Linked DNA regions of Homo sapiens: all the other regions are linked to region 1. Evidence: fine-mapped expression QTL. A gene starts in region 1. Each other region holds a variant in brackets. All regions are shown on one strand. Distances are from middle to middle. Region 1 holds the start of C8orf82 (chromosome 8 open reading frame 82). Region 2 overlaps ZNF251 (zinc finger protein 251). Region 3 overlaps ARHGAP39 (Rho GTPase activating protein 39).

Evidence for each region.
Region 2: its variant is fine-mapped to the expression of C8orf82 in whole blood (TOPMed, PIP above 0.99).
Region 3: its variant is fine-mapped to the expression of C8orf82 in whole blood (INTERVAL, PIP 0.96).

The regions. Positions count from the first base shown.
Region 1 is chr8:144,527,692-144,530,448 of GRCh38, forward strand. It overlaps C8orf82 (chromosome 8 open reading frame 82), which reads right to left and starts at 1,420. Exons shown (of 3, transcript NM_001001795.2): 1 at 1,070-1,420; 2 at 333-381; 3 at 1-96. The coding sequence starts at 1,225. It overlaps ARHGAP39 (Rho GTPase activating protein 39), which reads right to left. Exons shown (of 12, transcript NM_025251.3): 12 at 1,488-2,757. The coding sequence ends at 2,731. RefSeq lists an enhancer at 69-925 and silencers at 654-948, 906-955, 966-1,555, 2,287-2,386.
Region 2 is chr8:144,719,953-144,722,709 of GRCh38, forward strand. It overlaps ZNF251 (zinc finger protein 251), which reads right to left. Exons shown (of 5, transcript NM_138367.2): 5 at 957-2,757. The coding sequence ends at 1,692. Among named protein-coding and RNA genes, the nearest start is that of ZNF251, 34 kb to the right of the region's middle. The variant C/T (reference allele first, on the strand shown) is at 1,467.
Region 3 is chr8:144,581,636-144,584,392 of GRCh38, forward strand. All of the region lies in intron 2 of ARHGAP39 (Rho GTPase activating protein 39), which reads right to left. Among named protein-coding and RNA genes, the nearest start is that of C8orf82, 54 kb to the left of the region's middle. The variant C/T (reference allele first, on the strand shown) is at 1,448.

The DNA of each region.
Region 1 (2,757 bases):
CTCTGCCGCAGGGCGAGAGGAAGGGGAAAGCGGCCTCGTAGCGCCCGCTGCGGTTGGGTCTCAGGCGGGAGAAGAAGGTGACCAGGAACTGCGGGTCTGGGGGATGAAGGGTGCGTGTACTCAGCGCGCTGGGCTCCCAAGGCCTCCGGGCCCAGGACCATACCGAGGGCAGGCGCCGACGGTAAGAGGTTCGCCTGGCCTCACTCAGCGGGGCTCCTGAGCGCAGGACGCCCACTCCTTGGTGCGCTGGGCCCGTCGGCAGAGTCGGGGAGCCCATCAGGGGCTGCCCGGAAGGGAGAAAGAAGGGGCTGGAGAGGGAGGCACAGCATTACCTTTGAAGCAGGTGATGAAATTCTTCATTTTGGAATCATCCAGGAAAAGCTGCAGATAGAGGGCCAGGCCGTGATAAGTCCCAGCGTGCAGGTGGGGGCGGGGAAGCTCAGGAGGTCCTGAAGCTCGGGAGGTCCTGAACCGGCCCGAGCCCACTTTTCCTGCTTGTCTGTGCACACCGCATGCAGGGAGGCGCGTGAAAGGTAAACCTGGGGGCCCCGCCGACTTATCCGCGTCTATGCGCACCTCTGCTCCCTGGTCAGCCAATTCTTTCCCGCACCTTTTCCCTCTTTTCAAGTTTGTAATCAGTTGTACCACCTCCTCCGCGGAGACTACCTGGCCTGCTGCCTCCCGGACATGCAGCTGCCTTTTGACAGGGCTTCCAAAAAAAGGCAGGGCGGCCCGGGTGTCTCCCTGGCAGCGGCGAGAAGTCAGCGCCGGGGCTGGGGACTTGTAGGACAGAGTCCGAAGCTGCACAACGCAGCAGGGACGCGGCCCATGTAGGAGCCTCGGCCCGGACCGACCCAACTCCCCGTCTTTCCAGCGCGCTCTCCTCCAGCTCTGAGGAGTCGAGGTTGCCCACCGCGCAGGCCCCGCCCACCCACCCACCCCCTGGAACGTCCCTCCGGCCCCGCCCCTCGAGCAATGGTCCCGCCCACAGAGCCACGCCCCCCCCCCCGCCCCGCCCAGAGACCTCTCCCGGCCCCGCCTCTCGAGCAACGGCCCTGCCCCCGCCCACCTGGCCCTGGTGGTCCACGTAGTAGAAATACTCGCGGGTCCGCGGCTCCGGACTCTGGCCCTGCGTGTAGGAAACGCCCCCATCCCCGCTGCAGGCCCGGGCTCCCCGCGACCGCGCCAAGGCCAGGGTCCGGAGCGTCCCGCAAGGCGGCCACATTCTCCTCCCGCGCCGGAAGCGACCAGCAGGTCACGCCGGGGGCGGTGCTGCGCGAACTCGCGCCTGCCCGCAGTAGCCCCGCGCTTCGCGTTCCGGCGGCGCCCGCCTCCGCGACCCGGGCCCGGCGCTCTTCCCTCTCCCTCGGGCCTCGGGGGCTCGCCCGCCCTGGCCTTCCGAGAGGCGTGTGCCGGTGACGCCCCTTCCGGTCCGCCCCGCGTCTCTTCCCGCCCCCGGCCGCGCCCACAAGGAACGGGAGGACGCGCAGGGTCCATGTGCACTTTATTCACTCGTGTCGTCGCCTCTCGGGTCCATGCGTCGGGGCGAGCGTCTCAGCCGGGCGGGACCGCAAAGGCCCCGGGACCACCCGACTGAGGACGCCGCCCAGGCCTCGGCAGGGCTGGGGCTTTTGTTTTTAATAAATAAAAACGGAACTCTAAAAAATATATATATAAAAACTGGGGAGAAATTAAGTTTTACAACAATTGGAACTCAAAATTCCAAAATGGAAAATGTACAAACTCGGTCCCCCAGCAGCTCTGGCCCCGAGAACGGACAGTCCCGGGCCCGGCGCCTTCCCGCTCGCTCGTCTCCTGCAGGTCTGGGATGGGGATGGGGTAGAGCTTGGTTTTTGGTCAGAAGCCAAGAAAAAAGATCGGAGAAGAAAAGAAGGAATGACCTCAACTTGCTCTGCACGGAGGACGGGGACGGCTCAGAGATAAATAGCATTTAGGTTAAAACTATGTCATTAGCAAATTTAGTTCTTATATCTTTCCCTCTATTTATATCTCTATACACGGTGGGCTGCGATGCAGGATAGATTCTGGATTTACAGTTACACGAAGAAAAAAATACTCTCGCCCCTCCCCCACCCTGCCCCCAGAATGCCTGCCCAGCCCTGCTCCCTACCCCAGAGGACTTTGGTTTGGGGGCCCCCACCCCACCCACCGAGAGCCTGCCAGGCCCCGGGCCCACTGTCCTGGAGCCCCCAAACTCCTGAGCAGTCACCAGCTGGGGACCACGGGCCGAGGGAGGGAGAGGAGGCGGGGACAGGTCGGGAAGCTCTCTCGGGGCTGGGAAGAGCTGCAGGCCAGGACGAGGACAGGAGAAAGGGAAGGAGAGACCGGGGCGGCTGGGCAAGGCCCAGGCCAGGGCGCGCAGGAGCCACAGGGAGGCAGCCCGGCCCCAAGGAGGCAGCGTCGCTCGGCTCCAGGACACAGAAGGCACTTTCTCGGAGCTGACCCGCGGCCAGCGGAGGGCGAGGCGGTGCCCGCGGGAACTGGCCGTGAGGTGGGGGGCCAGAGGCGCCCTCCCCGCCGCTGCTGTGCCCTGGCTGCACCCTCAGACCAGGCAGAAGACGTGGGGAGCGCCGGGGCCAGGGGCCTGGGGGAGTGGAGGGGGCTCCAGGGCTGGGCCGGGCGATTCTGGCCCCTCTGCCGGGAGAGCGAGTGCGGAGTTCGGCCTGGCTGGGGGCGGCAGGACATCCCTCCTGTCCCCGGGCGCCCCCGCTACAGCACACCCTCCATGAAGCTGGT
Region 2 (2,757 bases), 190 kb after region 1:
AATTAAAACCATGGATACCACTACATCTCCACTAAAATAGCTAGAATATTAAAAAATGGACAATACTGCTGGGCACGTTGGCTTATGCCTGTAATCCCAGCGCTTTGGGAGGCTGAGGTGGGTGGATCACCTGAGGTCGGGAGTTGGAGACCAGCCTGACCAACATAGAGAAACCCCGTCTCTACTAAAAATACAAAATTAGCCGGGCGTGGTGGTGCATGCCTCTAATCCCAGCTTCTCAGGAGGCTGAGGCAGGAGAACCGTTTGAATTGAACCCGGGAGGCGGAGGTTGTGGTGAGCCGTGATCGCGCCATTGCACTCCAGCCTGGGCAACAAGAGCAAAACTCCGCCTCGGAAAAAAAAAAAAAAAAAAAAGGACAATACCAAGATCTGGTGAGGATTCAAAGCAACTAAACTCACACATCATCAGTGGGGATATACAACTGACTTTGTAAAAGTTTGGCAGTTTCTTAAAATGTTAAACATAAGCTTACCATATGACCCAGCAATCCCACTCCTATTTACCCAAGATAACTGAAAAGTTAGATTCACAAAACAGCCTGTAGTTGATACACAGTGATGGCAGCTTTAATCATAGTTGCCCATACTGAAAATGCCCAAATACCCTGCCATGGGTGAACGGATAAACAAATGGCTCCATCCATACAATGGAATGCTACTCGGTGCAAAAAAGCACTCTACACAGGCAATATGGATGACTCCAATGCATCATGTTCAGTAAAAGCAGCCACGTGCAAACAGCTGCACACTATTTCTGGAAATGGTGAGGTGATGGATAGAGGATAGAAAACAAACCAGTGGTTTCCACGGACTGGGGTTGAGGAGGGGTTAACCACAAGAGAGCACAAAGGAATTCTGGGTGGTGGTGAAGATGTTCAATGTCTGGAATGTGGTAGTGGCACAATTGTATGTTTTTGTCAAAGCCCAAAGAACTATACACTAAAAAGAGTAAATTTTATTGTTTATAAATTATGCTTCAATAAACCTGCCTTTAAAAAATTTTTTATCAGTAATTACAATTTTCAAAAGTGGAGATACTTGGTAGGCCCCTGCTTTCTTGGCCCCTAAGGTCCCTCTCTCTGTTAAACTGTAGAGCTCCTTAGAACCAAAACCAAACCACCTTTCATTTTAATGAAAATGAAATGCAAAAACTGGGGCTCCAAGCAAGGAAGAAACGTCTACCTGCAGTTCATCTGGGGGTTGGTGGGAGAGGTGGTGGAGAGAGTAAGGCTAAGCGCCCCCAGCAGGCCCAAGTTCTCTGTACCACACTTGGAGGCAGGTATATGGGACTGAAAGTGGATGTTCTCAGCCACAAGCCTGGGCCTGGATAGGAAACAAAGGATAAGACTGGAAGGATGTCAGGTAGGGTAGACCCAGAGCACCAGCTGGGCTCACTTTTCACGCCCTCCATCCATTCGTCATGAGTATCCGGATACAGCACCACA[C/T]GGTTCAACTCCTGAGCACAGCAGTAACCTTTACACAGACAGCCTGATTTCCCAGAATGAATTCTCGTGTTTACTTCCAGATTTAATGACTTTGACTTTAGTAGTCATCTGAACTATTTATTTTACTTTGCCAGTAATATTTAGACCTTATATATCTTTCATTATGCCATCTTATCTTCTAATGTCAAGTGAACAGTTGCTAAACTGTCTTCTGCATTTATCACATTAAAAATGTCTTTCTTGGAAAATCTTCTTGATATGAATAAAGTATCTTTTAGAGCCATCATTTAAAGCAGGTTTCTCTCCAACACGAGTCTGCTGAGGTGGTGTGAGCTGTGAACTCTGGCTGAAGGCTTTCCCATACACACTGCAATGACATGGTTTCTGACCAGTGTGAGTTACCTGATGTTGAATAAGGGTTGACTTTCCACTGAAGGCGTTTCCACATTCTTGACATTTATAGGGCTTTTCCCCAGCATGCATTATCTGATCTTCAGTGGGTCGTGAGGTGGGACTGAAAGCTTTTCCATATTCATTACATCCAAAGGATTTCTCACCAGTGTGAACTGTCCAGCGCAGAATGAGATTTGCACCATGGTTAAAGGCTCTGCCGTGCTTCTCTCCAGTGGGAATCTGTCCATCTGCTGTGAGGCTGGAGCCATGAACAAAGGCTGGACCATGTTTTCTGCACTTACGAGTCTCTCCGCTGTGAACTTTCTGATGCTGAATGAGGGTTGACCTCCGGCTGAAGGCCTTCCCACAGTCACCACAGTCATAGGGCTTCTCTCCAGTGTGAACTCGCTGATGTAGGGTGAGCTGGGAGCTCTGGCTGAAAGCTTTCCCACATTCAACGCACTGGTAGGGCTTCTCCCCAGTGTGAACTCTTCGATGCTGAACAAGAGTGGAACTCCGACGAAAGGCTTTGCCGCACTCATTACAAACATAGGGTTTTTCTCCTGTGTGAATCCTTACGTGTTCAGTAAGATGAGAGTTAAAACCAAAGGCTCTGCCGCATTCATTACATACATAGGGTTTCTCTCCAGTATGAACCCGATGATGGAGGAAAAGGCTTGAGCTCTGACTGAAGGCCTTCCCACACTGATTGCATTTATGGGGCTTCTCTCCAGTGTGAATTCTCTCATGCTGAATAAGGCTGGAGCTTCGACTGAAGGCCTTCCCACAGTGACTGCATTCATGCGGCTTCTCTCCAGTGTGAATTCTCTGATGCTGAGTTAACTGGGGGCTCTGGCTAAAGCCTCTTCCACATTCATTACACTTGTAGGGTTTCTCT
Region 3 (2,757 bases), 54 kb after region 1:
ACTGCACACCTGCTCAGTAGCCCCTCCGCTGCAACTGGACCGCCACCTCCACACTGGGTCGGGGTCTGGAGGGGCCTCAGGCCCAGCTAAGTGCTGCTGGACTCCCAAGCTGTGTTCTCCCAAGGATCCCCCAGATCAGCAAGGCCAAGGGCCCAGCTGGCTCTCAGACCCCCGATGGGGGGCAGAGTCTCCACCCGGCCCTCAGACCCCCGCTGGGGGCACAGCCTCCAGCTCAGTAACGTTTCTGAGGCCTCTTCCATGTTTCTACACGGAAACAAAAACCCTTAGAGGCACCAAGAGCCTCTCAGCAAAGATGCTGCCAGGAGGCGTTCCCATGGACCCATGCATCCGTCTCTTAACCCTGCGACAGGCCTGGTCCTCGCCATCACCGGGCTGGTGAGGTGTCTCGTTAGCCCTGCGACAGGCCTGGTCCTCGCCATCACCGGGCTGGTGAGGGGTCTCGTTTCCAGGGAAAATGCACTAATCCCAGGGGCTCAACAGAAGGGGAGGCAAGTGGTGAGGGCAGAAGGGCCAGCGGACACCAGGCCCAGACACGGGCTAGTGGGGGCTGCCTGCGGCTCCCCCAGGTCAAGGACAGAAAGAGCCCCCCTGGCGGCCGGCGCAGACTGGCTGCGGGGGCGACCTTCATCCCACGTCCCACCCTTTGAAACCAGGCCAGGGACACGGCGGCTCTGAAAACAGGCTGTGATGCGCACCACACCTGCTCGTAGGACACCAAGGATCCAGGCGGAGTCTGTCCCCGCCACCCCCAGAGGCCAGCTGGGGAAGCCGGGCCCTCACACAGTGGCGGCGGCCCCAGCAGCAGCCCTGGGGGTTCTGGGTCTGTTTCTTGCTGATGCAGATGAGCAGCTGAGAAACAGGCCTTGCCACCCAAGCCCTCCTTCAGGCCCTGGCCACTGGGCACTGTTTGCTCCTCTGTGTTTGGATGCCACAGGCAGAAGGCACCGAGGGACAGTCCACGTGGGGCCATGAGGTGGGCGTGCTCAGGGCCTTACGTGGGGAAGGAGCTGGCTCAGGGGTCTGGCTGCAGGAGGAGGATGAGGCGGGTGGGACTGGGCCTGAGTGCAGACACCACAGTGGTGCACTCAGAAGTCCAATGAAGGAGGGCCAGTGAGAGAAGGGGCACCCTGGGGATGGGCTGGTGGTGGAGGGCTGCAGGGGAAGGCAGATGAGAACTCCTGAGGCCCGCCTGTGGATGTTTCACCGTCATCCCCGTGGGAAGGCGAGGTGGTGGGGGTCCTGTTGTTTTGCTCAGCTTGAGTACATCTGCCAACAACTCCCCCCAAACAAATGCCTCGGCTTGCTCGGCTCAGACCCTCCACAGGCCCCAGACTCTGAACTTCCACCTGCATGTCTCGCCACACCCTTGGCGTACACACCCACTCCACCGTCCACCGTCCAGCAAACCACACGCAACAGGGGCCAC[C/T]CCCGCTCTGGTCCGTGCTTTCCCTTCTCAGCCCGGGGTCTCGCCAGGCACCAATAGCTGCCCAGCCCCTCCCTCCCAGCCCACAGTGGGTCCCCCAGTCGCTCCTGACGAACAAATCTAGGCAGCACCTTTCAGTCCCGAGGGAGCTGTGCCACTTTTGATACCACTGATCATGTTCTCTTCCTTTTATTTTTAAAGTTTTAACTTTTTGTTTTATAATTTCATATTTTCAAAAAGGTTAACAGCCTTCACCCAGATTCACCGCGTGTCACCTCCCTGAAACCGCAACAGGAAGTGGCGCACGCATTGTGGGGTGAGCAGCTCAGGAGACAACTGCTCGGCACGTGGAGGCACAGACGGGGTCTGCCCACGGCCCGGGCGGGACTGGGTGCCCACTAAGGTTCCCCACCGTAGCATCCTGTGCCGTCTCCCCAGCTACGAGGATCTCGTGGGGATCCCGTAAGGCCCCTGACATCCTGTTTCTCCTCCACTTTAACCCACGACTTTGAGCACCATGGATGCTTCCTGCCTGCGTGCTCCACTGAGCTGGCCAGCACACCGTCACCCTTGCTGGCTGGAATTCTATTCTGAGAGTCACACGATCAAGAATTTGTCATGTTGGCGGTGCTGTTGTGGGGGTGGCAGGTTACAGAGGTTTCTATTTTTCTGTATTTTCCAAGTGTTCCACAATATTCACAAGATTACTACTGTCATTGGAAAAAAAACCCACATATTATCTTCCTATAAAATGGTGCATATTCCATGTATGACATGCAATGAATCTTTCCAAGTGTCCAGTTTTAAAGTGTTAAGGATTTAGTGGGCAATGTTTCCCTGAAGCATCTGCACTCTTATATTGGCCTGTCCAGCACATCACTCAAGGGGATAAACGGTATCTCCCCGCAGGGGTGTTTTAATTCAAATGCAAACTTAATGACAAGGAAGGACTGTCACAGTTTATAATGAGATAAAGTTATATAGCTTTATTTTTAAAAGTGGCATATGTGTTTACATGTATATAGTTGTCTAGAAAATTACTGGAAGTCTAAAGCCAAATATTAAAAGAGATTAACTGGCCAAGTGCGGTGGCTCATGCCTGTAATCCCAGCAATTTGGGAAGCCAAGGCAGGCGGATCACTTGAGCTCAGGAGTTTGAGACCAGCCTGGGCAACGTGGTGAAACCCCATCTCTACAAAAAACACAAAAATTAGCCGGGCATGGTGGGTGCACTTCAGTTGCTTTTCACACTGAAGTCATTAATCTGCCTGCACTGATTTTTGTTTACTGTGTGAAATTTCATTTTCCCATAT